Linked DNA regions of Homo sapiens: regions 2 and 3 are each linked to region 1. The links come from fine-mapping of genetic effects on gene expression. A gene starts in region 1. Each other region holds a variant in brackets. All regions are shown on one strand. Distances are from middle to middle. Region 1 holds the start of SOS1 (SOS Ras/Rac guanine nucleotide exchange factor 1). Region 2 overlaps CDKL4 (cyclin dependent kinase like 4). Region 3 overlaps SOS1 (SOS Ras/Rac guanine nucleotide exchange factor 1).

The links. PIP is the estimated chance that this variant, and not a neighbour inherited with it, causes the effect.
Region 2: its variant is fine-mapped to the expression of SOS1 in whole blood (TOPMed, PIP above 0.99).
Region 3: its variant is fine-mapped to the expression of SOS1 in monocytes after interferon gamma (Fairfax 2014, PIP 0.95).

The regions. Positions count from the first base shown.
Region 1 is chr2:39,119,982-39,122,745 of GRCh38, reverse strand. SOS1 (SOS Ras/Rac guanine nucleotide exchange factor 1) reads left to right here and starts at 1,695. Exons shown (of 23, transcript NM_005633.4): 1 at 1,695-2,410. The coding sequence starts at 2,324. RefSeq lists a silencer at 1,826-2,545 and an enhancer at 2,746-2,764.
Region 2 is chr2:39,215,529-39,218,292 of GRCh38, reverse strand. The region is part of intron 3 of CDKL4 (cyclin dependent kinase like 4); the gene reads left to right. Among named protein-coding and RNA genes, the nearest start is that of CDKL4, 27 kb to the left of the region's middle. The variant G/C (reference allele first, on the strand shown) is at 1,199.
Region 3 is chr2:39,052,754-39,055,517 of GRCh38, reverse strand. SOS1 (SOS Ras/Rac guanine nucleotide exchange factor 1) reads left to right here. Exons shown (of 23, transcript NM_005633.4): 5 at 695-904. Among named protein-coding and RNA genes, the nearest start is that of SOS1, 67 kb to the left of the region's middle. The variant G/C (reference allele first, on the strand shown) is at 1,347.

The DNA of each region.
Region 1 (2,764 bases):
AGTGAAACCCCATCTCTAATAAAAATACAAAAATTACCTGGGTGTGGTGGCAGGCGCCTATAATTCCAGCTTTCATTCCACACACTTTGAAAGTGGGGAGTTTTTCAAATGTAAACCAAGTATGTATATTTTTATTTTTTCAATAAAACAATAAAGATGGGTCTCGCCAGCCTGGTCTCAAACTCCTGAACTCAAATGGTCCGCCCACCTCGGCCTCCCAAAGTGCTGGGATTACAGGCGTGAGCCACTGCGCCCGGCCGGTCTGTGTGTATGTGTGTGTGTGTGTGTGTGTGTGTGTATATTTTTTTTTGAATTGAAACGGAGTTTTGGTTTTGTTGCCCAGGCTGGAGTGCAGTGGCATGATCCCGGCTCACTGCAACCTCTGCCTCCTGGGTTCAAGCGATTCTCCTGCCTCAGCCTCCCAAGTAGCTGGGATTACAGGCGCCCACCACCATGCTCGGCTAATTTTTGTATTTCTTATGGAGACAGGTTTTCACAGTGTTGGCCAGGCTAGTCTGGAACTCCTGACCTCAGGTGATCCATCCGCCTCGGCCTCCTAAAGTGCTGGGATTACAGGCATGAGCCACCTCGCCTGGCCGGCCTGTGTATTTTTAAAGGAAATAACCTAAGAGTTGTTTTTCCAGATTTTCAAAGAGGTCCTGTAAAGATTAAGAACCACTGAACCTTTCTCGTTTATGTGATCCTGGTTACTGTTCTCAGGAATAGCAGGACACAATGTCAGCTTTAACCCAGGCTAGTTCCTCTAAACTGCCTTCTTATCGGTGAAATGAAAATAATAGGGTTGCTATGGGGATTAAATGAGATGATACTCAAAAAAATGATAATTAATGATAAATCATAAGGTGTCTGCCACAAAGTGCCCCTATTATAAACAAACAGTGGCCTGGAGGGACAGTTTATAAATACTGCTCCTTTAGCATTCCACTAACATTGACTGAGTGCCTGTTCTACACTGTGTAGAGGCCCTGGTGAAAAAGATCTGCCTTCCAGTTTATTATCTAGTCGAAAGAACCGCAAAAGATAACAAAACACAATAGACTGAACGCCCTGAGAGGGGCATAAGTGCAGTGCTCTAGGAGCTGTAAAAGAGGTCTCGATATCCACTGGAGGAAAGTGCTTACTGGAGTTCATTTCTGGAGTGGGTTTAAAAGATGAACAGAGGGAATCTAAAACATTCACACAAAATCAATACTACACGTACACATTTTATTATTTTGTGGAAAGACCACTTAGAAACACCGCAATCACTTCTACTACTCAGCAGATACTGAGCAGTAGGTTTCGTGACAGAGCACCTGTCTTTTGTCCAGTCTGTTTACTATACATTGCGTGCTCTGGGCAGTCCTTATCTTCGTGTTCAGGAACAAAGTACACACACCCCTTTCCGAAACGAAGGGCCCAGGGACTCCGAGAAGGGTGGGAGCCCTCACGGCCAGGCCACACAATGGGGAGCCTCTTTACCCTAGTCATCACCCACCCTTGCAGGCCCCACTTTGCCAGGGTGCGACTTCTCGGGCCCCTTCGCCCCTCCCCTGCAGCCCCCAGGAGCGCAGCCACAGCCCGGCCGGGCGCCCTCCCTGTCTCTCTCTCTCTTTCTCTCTCGAGCTTTCCTCCTCCTTCACCGGGAGCCGGAAAACCCGGAGCGAACCAGCCCAGCACGGCAGCGCATGCTCAGTAGCGAGCAGGTTCAGTTCGCTAGTAGGAAGCTCCAGCGCTACACCGGCGGCGGCGGTGGCGGCGGCGGCCGCGGCGGCACCTCAGGGCAGCCAGATTCCCCAACAACGACCTCCGGTCCTTCCCCTTCCCCGCGAGACCTCCGCCCCAGCTCCGCCCCGCCCGGGGCTCTTGCGTTTCGGAGTCCCAACTACGCGGAGCGGGCGCCGCGGCCGGAGCGTCCCTCCACACGTCCTCCCCCAGCCGCCAGCTCCGCCGCGGGGCCAGACCGGGCCCGGGAGTGCAGCCCCGGCGGGCGGGCGGCGGCCGCGGCAGAGGGCAGCCCGGGGCGGCGCCGGCGGGCCGGGGAGGGGCGGGGGGCCTGGCCCCGGGGCGGTGGTGCGGGATGCCGCCGCCTCCGGGCCGCGTCCGTTCTCCACGGCTGGTACCTGTGTCGGGTGGGTGGCCAGGCGCGGGCCTCGCCCCCCAGCCCCCTCGCCAGGGCTAGCCCGGCTGCGCGGCGCCCGGAGGGGGCCGGGCCGTCCGGTGGGGCCGCGGCCCTGTTCCGCGCTGCGAGCTCGCCCTCTCGCGGCTCCCTGGCCCGGCCGCCGCCGCCCCTCTCCCCGCCCAGAGGCGCCCCGGGGGCACCATGCAGGCGCAGCAGCTGCCCTACGAGTTTTTCAGCGAAGAGAACGCGCCCAAGTGGCGGGGACTACTGGTGCCTGCGCTGAAAAAGGTGAGGAGCACGCGGGACCCCGCTTCCCGGCCGCAGCCCCCCAGCGCGGGCGCTGGGGAAGGGCTGGGGAGGCGGGGCGCGCGCAGGGCCGTCTTTCTTCCCGGTCTCGCCGCGTCTCCAAAAGGACGGCGCACACGGAGAGGCCCCCCTCATACGGCTGGCTCTCGGTGTTGACATCCACCGGGTGTGTGGGAATGCCGCAGGGAGCCGGGGGGAGTTTATCCGGATAATCCAACCCCTGAGAGGTGAATGCTTTGCCCTTTGATTCCAGGACAACAACAGTTGGAGGAGCCTCAGTTTTCAGCGGAGGTCAAAGCAGGCCACTTTTCCGTCTTCTTGGTCTTAGCCCGGAGC
Region 2 (2,764 bases), 96 kb before region 1:
CTGTGCTCAAGCAATCCTCCTGCCTCAGCCTCCCAAAGTGCTGGGATTACAGGCATGAGCCACTGCACCTGGCAGAAATAATGTTTTAGCAGCTATCTGGTCATCCCTTAACCTAGTCAAGTTAACACAGAAAATTACTCATAACTAAAAGGAAGTAGAAGGAACAATAAACTGTTAATAGAAGTAGAAATAGAAGTAAACATAGAAATAGAAGTAAAATGTTATTAACAGCCTGATTGAAAGTATAAATAAGCCTTGGGGGCCAGGCGCAGTGGCTCACGCCTGTAATCCCAACACTTTGGGAGGCCGAGGCAGGCAGATCACCTGAGGTCAGGAGTTCAAGACCAGCCTGACCAACATGAAGAAACCCCATCTTTACTAAAAATACAAAGTTAGCTGAGTGTGATGGCACATGCCTGTAATCCCAGCTACTTGGGAGGCTGAGGCAGGAGAATCGCTTGAACCCAGGAGGCGGAGGTTGCGGCGAGCGGAGATTATGCCATTGCACTCCAGCCTGGGCAACAAGAGCGAAACTCTATCTCAAAAAATAAATAAATAAATAAATAAATAAATAAATAAATAAATAAATAATAAAATAAGCCTGGCATGTTCAGAGAATAGCAGAAAATAATGGGCTGGGATGGAGTGACTTTAGGGATGTGATAGGAGATAAAGTTGGGAAGGGAAATGGAAGTAAAATGTTATTAACAGCCTTGTAGGCCATAGTAACAAGGCTGGATTTTATTCTAGGATAGTAAAGATTTACTGAGAAGGACTGAATTCATCTTGGGTAATAATAATGAAATCAAGCTTCCCCTATTACGTTTTTATAACAAACTTCCAGGTAATGACTTCTGATTTCAGCATCAGGTCTTCCTCTGAGTGGTTCAAAGAGCATATTCTGAGCAGTTCAGTCTGAATTCCCCCATCATGTTACCCTATCTTGTTAGCCCATTCAGACTTGAACTGTGATGTCTCATGTTTGCTTTAAGGCCTTCATTACGACTTTTAGTATTACTTTCAGTGGCAAGAACCTCGGTTACTTTTGTACCAACCGAATATTTGGTTTTGCACTGGCCCAAAATATAATATTTAAACACTGAGCATCTTTTGATTTCACCAGAGGTTCATTTTGCTCCAAGATGCTTTGAAAAATGCTGCCTGTGGCTGAATGGTGCTGCAGCGCTCTATCTTTCTG[G/C]ACTGGGCGCCGCGTCGATGTGTACTCTCTTTGATGGTTATCTTCTCTTTGCACGATCTGTGGTGTTGGTTTGTGGTTCTCTTTGATGGCTATCTTCTCTTTGCACGATCAGTGGTGTTGTTTTGCCCCTGACGGAATCTGCCTTCTTGGAAGCTAACTGAACTGAATATGACACTTCCTGTGAGATGCCTTTAAACATCCTCTTTCATGTTAAAGTCATCTTTAACATCCTATGAAATTACTTTCCTATGAAATTACTTCATTCTCCATTCCCTGTTATTAAGGCTAGTAATTGGCGTTTTGCAGTTTCTCAATCCTAGCCCCTACCTTGTTTCCCAATTCCAGTACTTACTCTCCTGCACCTGTAGGCTCTTAGATCCCAACCAGACTAGCGTTCTGTTCCCATGTCAGCAGGAGCATGTACTCCACCCTCGCTAGTCCCTCTCAAGGACTGAAATCCATTTCCCTTCCTCTCACTGCTGCCACCATAATCTAAGTGTCCAAATCTCACTTGGGTTATTGAATTAGCCTCCTAATTTCTCTCTCTGTATGTATGTTGCCTTCCCAGAAATCCATTCTCCATATTATGTCACTTCCTTGCTTGATTTCTTTCAATGGTTTTGAATTTAGCATAAAATCCAAATTTCTTATTGAGATCTAGATCTCCGAGGCCCTCCATGGACTGATTTCTGCCAACCTTCCTGGCTTCTTCACTCAAGTTTCAGCCACCCTGGCCTCATACTGCTTTCCCCACACCTCCAGTTCTTTCTCTCCTCAGGGCCTCTTGCTATTCTGCACCTCTTCCCTCTTTGTACAGGGGTCTCAATCCCATCGACTGGCCTTATCTAATCTCAGACCTGTATCTCCAGAACTCATGTGGGTGTTAAAACCAGACATTGAGGGGATAGATTACTCAAATAACTTATAAGATATTATTCTAGTATTACACATGAGGAAAATTGAAGGTGCAGAGAGCTTAAATAACGTGTTCAAGATTATAAAGTAGGAAGCAGCATATCTGGGATTTGAACTCAAGCAACCTGTCTCACAGTGCTCAACATGGCTATACTATTCTTCCTGCCTCATATTTTGAAAGTGTACGCAATGTTGTTTCAGGTTTGGCTCTAGGTGAAGTGGGGAGAAGAATACAGTTATATCAGTATTCAGTGCTGGAAATAGACACTTCAAGTCGAAAGGGATTTAATCATGAAAATTAGGTACATTTGCAATATTAATAATTAGGAGAACTGGGGTCAAGGGTTGCCACTGGGCCACTGATGTCAAGGACATGCCACCATAATTGTGGTACAAGATCAGGAAACTGCTCTGAGGAAAATACCGTGTACATCACTTGCTGTTTCTCTGCATATACTTCAGACTCTTGTAGCTAGTGTCATAACTGAGTCATGCCTAGGCCTTCCCACTGTTCTGTAAAGTCAGCTACATCTGCACATGTTCAATTTTTAAAAAGTGATCTAAATATATGATTTAAATATCCAAATATGATAAAATATTAAATCTGAGTGATGGATATGTTTGGGGTATTACATAATATAATTTTTTTAA
Region 3 (2,764 bases), 67 kb after region 1:
TGCTTTTTAATGAATCAGATAAATAAAATATTTTTGAGTACCTACTACATGTTTACACAGAGAGGAGATGCAAGATAAGTATATATAAAACAAGGCTCCAGAGTTGATGAAGGTATACTTATATTCATGAAACAATCAGAAAGCACACAAGATAAAATAATATTTTATTGTGTTATAGAGATATGATGCTGTAGAAGTTCTCAAGAAGGGGAAAGATGTGTTGTAGCAAGAGTAGTAACAGTAGACTTCTTGCAGAAAATAATAGCTTATTTTGACCTATTCCCAACAAATGTAGGAAAATCGGCCGAATAGACAGCTATAAACATTTAAATATGAGATACTGAGGCCATGGAATAAAGTGATGATGGCAGGGTATAAAACAGAGAAAACCAAGTCAGGGAAATTAAAGACAGGATCTGGAAACAAATTGGAAGTAATAGGTTAACAAGAGAGACAGACAGATAAATACTAGTAGTGATAGAGAACTTGGAGGAGTGTAGTAAGTTATATCACATGTTGAATTCTGTTTTAGAGAAGCTGTGGAGGGATGCTGGCAATATATCCAAGAAGAGAAATTTGTTTGTCTGCTTTTTTATCATTTAAGAACTTTATTCAGAGAACTTAGAGCATTTCACATCAAATTCTACGAAAGCTTCATATTTTATTATACTTTTTTATATCTCTGACTGTATAGGTATTGATGGATATGTTTCATCAAGATGTAGAAGATATTAATATATTATCTTTAACTGACGAAGAGCCTTCCACCTCAGGAGAACAAACTTACTATGATTTGGTAAAAGCATTTATGGCAGAAATTCGACAATATATAAGGGAACTAAATCTAATTATAAAAGTTTTTAGAGAGCCCTTTGTCTCCAATTCAAAATTGTTTTCAGCTAATGTAAGTATCATTGTATATATGCCTCTCATTGAATGTGTTGTGAAATTTGCATGACCACTTCAAATTTGAAGTTGTACAGTTCATCATTACTAATTTGTTAATTTTTTTAAGTTGTGGGACTTAATTCATGATCACAAAGTTTTACAACAGTTTCAAGAGATTTAACATTAGAAATTAAGAGACAAAATACAAAGTAGACTGATTATGTAAGTGAAAATGAATTCACAGAATTCTCCATGTACTCCAAAGGATAAAGCTTCTTGTTTAGGTGGAAGATATGTTTGTTTGAGTCATTTGAATCATTCAACCTACACTTCATCAATGCCAACTGTATTGTCAGGTACCATGCTTGGCAGCAGGGATTCAAAGATGAATAAGAAACAGTTCTGCTGGGCACGGTGGCTCACGCCTGTAATCCCAGCACTTTGGGAGGCCGAGGCGG[G/C]CAGATCACGAGGTCAGGAGATGGAGACCATCCTGGCTAACACGGTGAAACCCCATCTCTACTAAAAATACAAAAAATTAGCCGGGCGTGGTGGCGAGCGTCTGTAATCCCAGCTACTCGGGAGGCTGAGGCAGGAGAATGGCGTGAACCTGGGAGGCGGAGCTTGCAGTGAGCCGAGATCGCGCCACTGCACTCCAGCCTGGGCGACAGAGCGAGACTCCGTCTCAGAAGAAAAAAAAAAAAAGAGTTCCTTTCCTTAAGTTTAGTCTAGTCAAGACAGAGATATAAACTATAAATTGCAATAAAATATGGTAATTACCATATTAGAAGTATGACAGCAGTAGTATTGGGAGCACAAAGGAAGGGGCCAGTAACATTGAAACTTAGACAAAGGATTACTGATCTTAAGATAGTGATCAAACTAACCTAATTGGGTCCTGAAGAAATGTTGAATGAGAACAGGTGAGACGGTCACAGGAATTACACACTGGTAATTCCTGGAACTGTAGCCACACAGCCATAAATGACTGATAAGAGAAACAGTGCTCACTACAGAGGCTGGGATTGGGCTCAAGCTATGGCGATGAGTGAAAATTAAAAAATAAAGGAGATTATGGTGATGGTTGTACAAATCTGTAAATATATTAAAGACCATTAAATTACTCACTTTAAATGGACACACTGCATGGTTTCTAAATAATGTTTCAATAAGGTTGCTTTAAAAAAAGTAAAGAAGAGGCAAAGGTTTCTGAGGACACAAAAATCAAGAACCAAAATGGCCAAAAAGCACATCAAAAGGTGTTCAACATCACTAATCATTAGAGAAATGCAAATTAAAACCATGACATACTACTACATACTCATTTGAAAGGCTAAAATGTAAATGACTTATAATACCAAAAGTTGAAATGGGTATGGAGCAACTACTTGTGGGAATATAAAATTCCCACATTACCTGAGAAAGTAAACTAGTATATTTTGGAAAACAGTTTGGTGGTTCTCTCTCTTTTTTTTTTCTTGAGACGTAGTCTCGGCCTGTTGCCCAGGCTGGAGTGCAGGGCCGTGATCTTGGCTCACTGTAACCTCTGCCTCCCAGGTTCAAGCGATTCTCCTGCCTCAGCCTCCCGTGTAGCTGGGATTACAGGTGTGTGCCACCACGCCTGGCTCATTTTTGTATTTTTAGTAGAGGCGGGGTTTCACCATGTTGACCAGGCTGGTCTCGAACTCCTGACCTCAAGTGATCTGCCAGCCTTGGCCTCCCAAAATGCTGGAATTACAGGCGTGAGCCACCATGCCTGGCCAGTTTGGCAGTTCTTTATAACAATAAACATAAACTAACCATATTGCCCAGCAATTCTACTCCTAGGTTTTTACCCAGAAGAAATGAAAACATGTCCATGCAAAAACTGGTTCATGAA